2 linked regions of the Homo sapiens genome follow. The protein of the gene in region 2 interacts with the protein of the main gene of each other region in a biochemical or structural test. Each region holds a gene or a part of one and is shown on either strand. Other genes may lie near its edges.

The links.
Region 1: the proteins of DNAJB5 (region 2) and TBPL2 form a complex in vitro, tested with the Homo sapiens proteins (one study listed by BioGRID).

What each region holds. Positions count from the first base shown.
Region 1 is NC_000014.9:55,413,679-55,416,885, forward strand, and holds the end of TBPL2 (TATA box-binding protein-like 2), read right to left. Parts: intron 778-3,207; coding exon 701-777; 3' UTR 532-700; downstream 1-531. UniProt on the Homo sapiens protein: Transcription factor required in complex with TAF3 for the differentiation of myoblasts into myocytes. The complex replaces TFIID at specific promoters at an early stage in the differentiation process.
Region 2 is NC_000009.12:34,985,787-34,992,886, reverse strand, and holds the start of DNAJB5 (dnaJ homolog subfamily B member 5), read right to left. Parts: upstream 3,143-7,100; 5' UTR 3,056-3,142; intron 2,598-3,055; exon of another isoform or gene 2,389-2,597; 5' UTR 2,257-2,388; coding exon 2,075-2,256; intron 1-2,074.

The sequences.
Region 1 (3,207 bases), on a different chromosome or scaffold from region 2:
TCTTTTTCTGATTATTTACCTTCACGCGTTTCAGGAAACTTACTTGGCTCTTAGAGTGCCAAGGCCCAGGCAGATGGATCAACTGAGGTCAGGAGTTCAAGACCAGCCTGGCTCAGTAAGCACATTCATTCTCTTGGCAAAAATCTTGCCCTTGTTTACAATGCCAACAGCATGCTGGGTAACACTGTAGACTCTTCCAGCTTTGCTGTGGTAACATTTGCGGAGCACTCCTTTTTGAAAAGCAGCCATTCCCTTGATGTCTACAATATCACCTTTTTCGTAGATTCGCATGTATGTGGCCAAAGGAACAACTCCATCTTTTCTAAAAGGCCTAGAGAACATGTATCAGGTGCCTCACCTCTTTCCCTTTGTGTTCGTCATTTTGGCAAATTACTGGAAGATGGCCCTTCCGGCTAAAAGGAAACGCATTGAGTCTTCATGATGCTACAATATCATTCTAGTGAGACCCTAAATCTCTCAAATTTTGAAATGTTTACTTGTTCAGTTTTTAAAATAACACAAAAGGAGTCATTTTGAATAAGAATTTTTCTTCGTTTCTTAGGTTACTTACACAGAGTCGCCCTTTAATAAGTAACGTACTTGTAACATCTACAATTAAACGTAGAAGAATCCAGCTGTTTCTGTGCTGGGCTTATGGACATATTCAAACCAGAATAATGTGAGATGCTGAATGATATGCTCAGGCTTTTTTAAAACCTTTTAGAATAGGATAGATGTTTTCAAATGCTTCATAGATCTCAGAACGTTCTTTGGCACCTATAAAGAAATCCAGGTTTATATAATTTTTAATATAAAAATACCAACATTTACTTAAACACTAAAATTTCATTGTATTGTCTCCAATTACTTTTAATATGACATCTCTTTAGCTGTACCTGAGAAATGGCATTTATTCCGGGTAAATAATTTGGCAACTACAGCCATATTTCCACAAGACAGAAACCTTAGAGCAGAGTTTTCTAGAACTTCTCTGTGGGTGTCATCTTTGCTCACACAGTGCTCAGTATGAAATGTGGAATGTTATCTCTACATGTGCCATGAATATGGCCTCAGAGTAATTTCATCAGCACCTGCGGGCACTTAGCTACCAGCAAAAGGGACTTCTTTTGATCCACGTCCTCTCTAGTTAACATCTTGATTCCCTAATATTGATAACAGATGGAGACAAATGAGCTTTAAATTTGTTTTAAATTTTAGTTTAAAATTCTAAATTTAAAAGAGTTTTAAATTTTAGTGCATGGGAAGGGATTATTAGAGGGGAAAACTGTACTACTGTCACTCGTAAAGTCTTGTTTCAAGAAATTGTAAATCATAACTGCTGTAGGAATTACAGGGATAAAAACATGAATCAAACAGTCTCCACCATTGAGAAGTATTAGTCCCTACTCATCTCTCACCAACAACCAAACACCACCATTACCTCCAGCTTCCAAATTATGCAGGCACGTTGTGCTAAGGGTCATGTACTTGTACTACTTATATTTATATGGAGCTTCAGCTAATCAGGACACTAATCAGTTAATCTGATATTTTGTGGGCTGGAGGCAAGGAAGGAAGAAAGGAGGATAATGAAAGGACTATAACAACTGTTAGCATGAAGAGAAATGGAAAATAGCTTTAGTTGATAAAGACTCTTAAGAACTATAAAGTACATTGCTGATAGGAACAAAAAATGGCTCAGCTACTGTGGAAACTAGTTCGGTGGTTAAGTTAAAGAATTACTACATGACCCAACAATTTCACGCCTTGGTAAATACACCCCAAATTGAAAACAGGTACTCAAAAAAAATACTACGCACTTTCATTGCAGCACTATTCACACTTGCCAAAAGGTGGAAACAGCTTAAATGCCCGTCAATGGATGGATAACAATTTATAGTGTAGGCGGGGCGTGGTGGCTCACACCTGTAATCCCAGCACTTTGGGAGTCCCAGGCAGGTGGATCACCTGAGGTCAGGAGTTCAAGACCAGCCTGGCCAACACGGCGAAACCCCCGTCTCTACTAAAAATACAAAAGAAAATTAGGCGTGGCGGTGGGCGTCTGTCATCCTAGCTATTTGGGAGGCTGAGGCAGGAGAATTGCTTGAATTTGGGAGGCGGGGGTTGCAATGAGCAGAGTTCGCACCATTACACTCCAGCCTGGGCGACACAGCGAGACTCTGTCTCAAAATAAAAAAATGTATGGTGTGTATATACAATAGAATATTAGTCATAAACAGAAATGAAGTACACATGCTACAACATATAGCATGTTTCTTAGGCTCATCTAAGTGAAAAGCCAGACATGAAAAGTCACATGTTATAAGATTCTATGTATAAGAAGTATCCAGAAGAGTTAAATCCATGGAGACAGAATTCAGATTGGTAGTTGCCAGGGGAAGTGAGGAGAGGGGAATGGGGGGAATGGTTTAATGATATCAGGTTTTATTTTGGAGCAATAGAAATGTTTTAGAACTAGGTAGAGCCGGTGGTATATTCACAATACACAACCAGCTACTAAATGCCACTGAACTGTTCACTTTAAAATGGTTAAATTTGTTATGTGCGTTCACCTTAAATATTAAACAATCAGGGATGAAGTCCTTATAAGCTTAATTTTTTAAGAAATAAGGGCAGGCATGGTGGCTCACACCTGTAATTCCAGCACTTTGGGAGGCCAAGGTGGGAGGATCCCTTGAGCCCAGGAGTTTGAGACCAGCCCGGGTAACATAGGGACACCCTGTCTCCATAAAAATAAAGGAAAAAAATAAAAAGAGAAAAAATAAAGAGAAGAAAAGTTATTTATTCATTGCCAAAAAGTTTACTATCTGTAGGTCTTCACCTTCAAAGATTTGCGGTGGGGAGGAGAGTGAGTTACTGACACACATAAGAGAAACTGGTTCTTTGGGGTAGAAAAAGCCACAAGTTTCAGCAGATTTTTAGTTCCAGCTCTAAAATTTTGGTTTCTACAAAACCAAACTCTTTAGAAACTAAACAGTGAGTTGGTGAAGAAGCAAGAACCACTGCCTCTGGTTTGATGGACTTTTTGGGCTTCTAGCTGCATTCGTCTTGAACAACCTTGTTAGCAGACAATGAAGCATAATAGGTACAGCAAACACACACATGCCCCTCTCCCAAAATCCCCAAAACCAAGGTTCTTCTTTTCATATTTAATTGAGGAACAGTGTCCAGGTCCAGTATTTTGGA
Region 2 (7,100 bases):
CTGCTGAGCGAGGTGGCACCATGGACTGAGCGACCCACACACAGGAGCTGGCGAAGGTCAGTGTAACGGGTGAGGTCACCTGAGCATCGTGGTCTCCTACGCCACGCCTCAGGCATGGTGCCCAGGCTGAGGGCAGCTGGGGCAGTGGCCCAGGACCGGGAACAGGCCTGGGTCTTCCGCCAGCTGTCCTGGCCAGCCAGACTGAGTCAGGGAATGGGTGTCTGGAGTCCTGTCTGCCATCGGAGACCCCAGGCCTCCCCGCCCCCACCCCTCTGACGATGCTAAGCCTCACGTGTGACTCAGATCACAGGGTGACTCACAGCCTTTGGAAACTGCTGTTTCCAACTCCCTCATTAGCAGGGGGGGCGACACTATCCTTCCCCCAACCAGGGCAACAGTTCCCTTTACTCATTTGCCAGCGTCTACACACAAAACTGTGAGGGCTGTGCCGCCTAAGCACCAGTGTGAGTGAACAAAAGCATCCTGGGGACAGGACTTTTTCAACCCCAGCTGTTAGGAGACAATTGGGCACTAACCAACCACCATTTCCTTAATACCTCTCCTAGCCTCACCCTACGCCCCCAGTCCACCCTGTGGTTTAGGATCCGGCCCATCATCAGACCCATATTCCTCTGAGTCCCTTTTAAGGTGGGTGCAGGAGCATTTGTTATAAGAGAAACGTACAACCCGAATTCTTCCATTCCAGTCTCCCTCTATCGGTGTGTCTGTGGTGGATATCAGGGGAAGGGGGACTTTCCTGTAGCTAGAGCTCTCTGGGGGATGGCCAGAAGCCATTCTCAGCCCTTCTGAGACTTGGCCAACCCCTGCCAAAGCCAGGAGAACCAGAGTCTTTCTAGCAATGTCCTAGGCTGGCAGCCACAGCTGAGACCTGCCTTTCTGCCTCTGACTGCTTCACAGCAGGGAGGTGTACAGGGTGTCCTTCCAGGAGTGAGGCCTGTAACCGGGTAAGGGGGAGGCGCCCAAGGCCCTAGGTGGGCAGGGACAATGGCCCTCACTGCTGCCCCCACAGGCCCTGCTGCAGGTGGCTGGGTTGACTCATGGTTCTGGGAGTCACCTTTCTCTGACGAAGAAAAGGCTCCACAAAGGCGGGTACTCCCCCATTGCCCCCCACCAGCATGTCACGTCTGTGGGGGAGATGGGGTGGGGGGTGGGGTTGGGAGAGGCAGAGAAGAAAGAGCACCTCGTTGGGGGGGGGGGCAACCGTTTTCGGAAATGGCAGCAAAAGCCGTCTGAGAGGGAGCGGGGGGGGGTGGTCTGCCATTTCTGCCTCAACCCACACCTTCTTTCCCCTGGGACTGGGAAAGAACCCTAGCACACCAAGAGGGTGCCCCTAGAGAACGAGAGCAGCTTCCAGGCAGAGGGCCAGTGGAACGGCTCACCAACCACCCACCTCCTTTTGGTGTCCCTGCATTACCTCCACACCCGGCCAGCTTCCTCCCTGGTACCCACCTGCTAGCTGCTCTAGGCCCATACATCTCTTGCCTCCGCAGACACAGGGCAAGCTCTTTCAGGATCTGCCTCCTTTTTCTCTTTCTGCTTTCCTCCCTCCTTCCCTTCCCCCCTACCCACAGGCCACGTGTTGGAATGACAAAGGAGCCCCATGGCATGGCACTGCCTTTGATGGAGAAGAATGAGGAGGATGTTAAGGTAGAGGCAGGAAGGAAAAATGGGGAGAAAATGGCGAGGGGGACTGTTGAGGTACAGGGAGGGGAGATGGCTGATACAGAAAATGAGGTACTGATGGAGGGGGATGAGTGACAGATGGAAATGGCTGAGGTGGAAAATGGGTTAATGATGGGTTGAAAGGGAGGAATGTGGAGAGTTGAAATAATGGAGGAAATGTCTGTGGAAAATGGATACCTGAAGGGTTTGAGAAAAGGAATGATAAGGGGTGCAATTCATTCAAATATGTGGGTGAGGCCGGAGGGGGGTTCCTGTATGTCACAGAGGGGATGAGGATGAGTTGGAGGAAGCAGGAAGGCAATGGAGGGGATGGCCGCGTGGAGGGTTTGACTGGGTATGGGTGTGAGTGCCCTTCTCCGGAGGGACTTACCGAAACTTTACAAACCCATTCAGCGTCCACGCTCGAAGTTTTAAGGGCTCCAGCTGAATTTTAAACATCAAGCTGGCTAAGAAGTCTTCTCCCCAGGAGTGTGGGAAGCTCCGGAAAGCTCCTCGGGCCTGCAGTGGGGGTGCTGCTGGGGGTGGGCAGGAGAGCACTGTGCGCTTAAACATGCCCAGCCAAGCCCCTCACCTCTGATCGCTCCACCGGAGCCGGCCTGAAGTGCTGCAGCTCTGGAAGCCACCTCCTTGGACTCTCAGAGGCGCGTGCCCAGCAAGGCCTGTCTGGCGCAGCAGGTGCCGGACCTGATCCCCAAATGTGGAGAGTGAAGGGAGAAGACCCGCGGCCACCTGCTCTCAGGTGCAGCAGTGTCTGGCTGGCTGTGAGCGGCTGTATGGCAGCGTGTCAGTGAGGCTGGGAGTGCAAGCGTGTGTTTGTGAGTGGCAGCGTGTATACCTGTGACAGGTGTGATTGTGAGGGCCCGAGAGGCAGTGAGCTCCTGTCGCCTCTCACTGGGGAGGACCCGACCCCAATCCCCAAGAACCTACTCAATGAAGTCACTGACGGGAGTCTCCTCCCTCGCAGATGGGCGGGGCAGAGCGGAGCTCGGCCGGGACAAAAGGCGCGGCGAGGAGAGGAGGGGAGGGGGCTCGGGCGGGGGAGGGTGGTCGGTGATGTCACCCGCGCTGGCTGGCTGGTCTGCTCACAGATGCCTCCGCCCCACAGAACCCAATCTGGTCCGGTCCGACTCGACCCTCCCCTCCCCTCCCCTCCCCGACTCAGACGCTGGCTGCCCCCTGTGACAGCCAAGCCCTGGTCTAGGACTCCGAGCACCCTGCAGACCCCGGGGCCCCGCATCCCCAAGGCAGCAGAGCCTACGGGCCCTCAGTGTCCCAACCCCCCAACACCAGGAGCCCTGGCTTCACGACGCCCCGCTCCCGGGACCCCCGAGTCCTGGCTTGGCGCCCTCACCGGTGAGGAGCTGCGGGCGCCGCCGTGGTCCGTGAGACAGCCGCTGCCCCCTCCCCCGGCTCCGGCTCCGCCGCCTCCACCCGGGACAGGAGTCGCCTGCCCGCCGGCCGCCGATAGCGGGACCGGGAGCCCGCCCCCACGGCTCCGCCTCCGCGCCGCCCATTGAACCGTCTTCCTGTCACTCAGCTCAGCCTCCACTGTGATTGGGCAGTTTTCAACAAGCGGCTTGGTGATAGCCGCCCATCCTCCGCCCCTGTCACCCGGCCACACGCGCACACATTCCAGGCAGTGATTGGTGTGGATCTGATTGGCGCCCTCTGGGATCACTCAACCACGCCTCTTTGCCATCTTGTCGTGCCATTGGTGAAAAAGACAGAGGGCGGCAACCTCGCTCGCCCTTTGATTTTATTGGTTCGTGCCTGAGACTCAGACCCGAGCCCGGGGGCAAACTATATTAGTCCAATCTCCGGGTTGAGAAGGTGGGACGTACTGGCCACTGCTCGAATCCCAGGAGAACCTTCTGGAACCCTTGCGACGTCAAAGGCAGCCTTAAAGGAAAACTGTACCCACCAGTTGGCCGTGCGGCCGTGCATTCTTTCCTTTCTTCATTGGGGGGCAAGAGGGAGAGAACAGTGCACTCTGGGAGGTGTAGTCCCTGGACCGGGGCCAAAAGGTCAGCACTTCTTACTCGCCTTTCAGCCAACGGTGTAACCACCTCAAGCTGACCTCATTTAGCTTTACCTTATCCTGACCCCGCGGTGGCCTGATGTGACCTAACGGAATCTCTAACAGACCCCACGGATGCCGGGTTTCAGAGCCCCCCGGACCTCTCCCCCGAGGGAAACGGATGGCTCTGCCCAGGCCGGTGCCTCCAGGAATCTCCCCCGCCCACCCTCTGTACAGCCCCTCATCCTCGCGCCCCTCTTCAGCGACCCCGCGGTCTCCATTTCAGTCCCTCTTCTAATCAGTCTCTCATCCTGCTTCCCCCTGGAGTGCCTGTGTTTTAGCCCTTTCCTTCTTGGCCCTAGATGATCTCCTGTCTTCCTTCCCGCAGTGATCCCTTTTGTCTTATTCTTGGTTCTTTCTTTACACCCCGATCTCCTATCCTAGCTCTCCCCTTTCATCTTTCATCTCACTCCCCAAGATCCCCTTCCTTAACACCCTCAGAATCTCTAGTCTCCCCCACCCCCCATTAAGTCATTAGATCTCAGCCCCAGTGTCCCCGATGCAGGGAGCAGGCGGGGCTGCGGAGGCGGTCGCCAGCGGAAGCCGCCACTCCAGCAGACACGGTGCCTGGCGCCCACGTCACTGTCTCCCAGGCCCATCTGTGCTCGAGGGAGCGGGGGTGGGGAGGGAGTAATTTGGGGGTGAAGTGGGGGAGGGGAGTGCTGGGGGGTTGATGATGATAGAAGGGTCAGGCCGGAAGCTCCCCTTTACTTCTTTCTTTCCTATTTTCCAGAGACAGAGTTTGGACACCCATGAGGTCTTGCTAGAAACTGCAGCTTGAGTACCTGGGCCAAGAGCAGAGCAAGGCGGGGGGGGGGTGCCAGGGTCCTGGAGTCATGTCTGTAGATTCTTCACTACCTACCTTCATGCCAGGAGTCACTATGGGGCTCCCAAGGGTAAAGGGGCATGAGGTGTGAAGGAAGAAAGAGACTTGGGGTGAAAGGAGGATGGAAAGGAAGTGGGGTTGGGGGCCAGGAGGGGAGCAGAGATGGGTGATGAATGTGGGGAAATGAGCATGAGGAATTTGAGGAAATGGGGTTGAGGGGGGGAGGTAGGGAGAGGGGGTGGTGAGAGGATGGTGAGATGGGGTGAGGGGGATGAGGAGGGGAGGGGCATGGGGCAGATGAGCCATAGGGTGGGAGTAAGGAGGGCAGAGGAAAGGAGGGCTGGGGAGGGGAGGGAAGGCAGGGTGGGGGATAAGGAAAGAAGGGCTGGGGAGGGGCAGGAAGGCAGGGTGAGGGATGAGGAAAGAAGGGGTGAGTAATGAAAGGATGAGGCACAGAGATGGGGTGAGGAGGAGTGAGGAAGGGGGAGGGGAGGGAGGAGGGATGGACATCTCTGTGTGACACAGAGATGGGTAAGGTGGGGTGAGGGGCCCTGCACCGCTGCTGGCTCCTCAGATCTGGGGGCTCTCACTCTTCCACCTCCACACCTGTGGGGCCCAGGCTGTGGGTGGCTCTACTTCTTCCTATTCCAGTTCTGTCTCTTTTGCCTCCCCCAGCCTTGCCTGTGCCAACACGGAGGCAGAGAGTTTAGTCACCAGCCTTTACCTGGCCCCTGCTAATGCTAAAGTGTAGGCTCGGACCTTTGAGGGTGCAGAACTGTGCCTTCAGGTGTTGGTGGCACAGACTCCACTGTTTGCCTAGTCCTCGGTTCCCGCCCTCAGTCCCATTGTCCTGGGTGTCACGTGTGTGTAGTGCTCAGTGTGGCATGGACTGTGACAGTGTGGTCTGGAGTCTATGCACCTTGTGAGCTTACACGCCACACTCATGCCTCATCTCCTTTGTAAATGGGGATTGGTGCCTCAGGGGGTTGTTGAGAGGGTTAATTAAGGTAACACAGGTAGTGCACTTAGTTCTGAGCTGGGCATGTAGTTTATACCCAACCAATGGTTAACTTGGTTAACTCAACCAAGTTAACCATTACTCTACATGTTCACAGATGCTGGGAGTGCGAGTGCATCTATAAATCTGTGAGTCTGGGAGTTATTTGTAGTGTGGTACTGGTAATGTGATTTGTGAGTGGATCTGTGCAGTTATTTTTGTGTGGTGGTGTGCCTGATTCTGTTATATGTTGTAGGTATATGATTTTGGGTCAGTGTACATGTGTGAGTAAATGACTGTGCGGGCATGTGTCTACATGACAAAGAGTGGATAAGGTATATAGGCACTGACACATTGACACCATGTCTGCCAGCGTATGCACGCATCTGCGATCATGCCAGTCCCAAACGCCCCCACTCACCCTCCCTCCCCTTGGAGACGTCATAACCCTAGGTGTCCCTCATTTCCTCACCCTGAGGGAACCGGAACCCGTGGGCAGGGGTGGGGGTGGGTGCCAGTGAGGAGGTGTTTTAGACAGAGGCACATGTTCCCTCCCAGACTGTATAGGGAAGGGAGCCCCTATCCTGCTCACATCCCGAAGGCTGCAGAGGAAGTGCCCCCAGCCTGTTTTCAGTTCCCTGTCTTGTCACCATGGTAATGGTTGCCAGGGGTTCCCATGGTTGCTAAGATCTGGGTGTGGGAGGCTGCCAGGCCCTGTTGCCAGTAGAAACAGAGAATCCTGGGGGGAAGGAAGACTACCCTCACAGCTGCCACCTCCCTGCAGTGACAGAACTGGCCCTTGGGCCACTTCTCTCCCCCAGTTGTACCTATGAGTTGTATGTGGTAGTACTAGTGTGTGTGTGGGAGCAGGAGCGGGGGCTTTAACAGGAAACCAGAACTAGAATACTGGGATACTAGAATACTGAGGAACAGGGGGCTACTTGGCCTACCCATCACCATCCTTAAAGTTGGGAGGGCCTTACGAATTAGTGACTACCTGCCATCTCTACTAAAATACAAAAAAAATTAGCCAGGTGTTGTGGCACATGCCTGTAATCTCAGCTACTCAGGAGGCTGAGGCAAAAGAATCGCTTGAACCCAGAAGGCAGAGGTTGCAGTGAGCCGAGATCGCGCCACTGCACTCCAGCCTGGGTGACAGAGTGAGACGAGACTCCCTGTCAAAAAAAAAAAAAAAAGAAAAGAAAAGAAAAGAAAAAAAAGAAATGAGTGACTATCTCCTGCTGTCCCCTGTCCCTCATATCTCTCCCCTGGGCAGTCTCCATGTTTGTTCTTGAGTTCTCCAGTGCCTGGGTACTCATTACCTGATGCTTTCTCCTGGGTGTAGGAATGCCACGTTGACCCATCACCTTGGCTGCAGATGGCCTCCCTCCTGTGATCAGACTCTGAGCATCTCACCTGATACATGCTTCATGCTGACACTCAGGCCCAGACTTTGGTCCCACACTGAGTCCCAACTTTGACCTCAGCCTGAGACA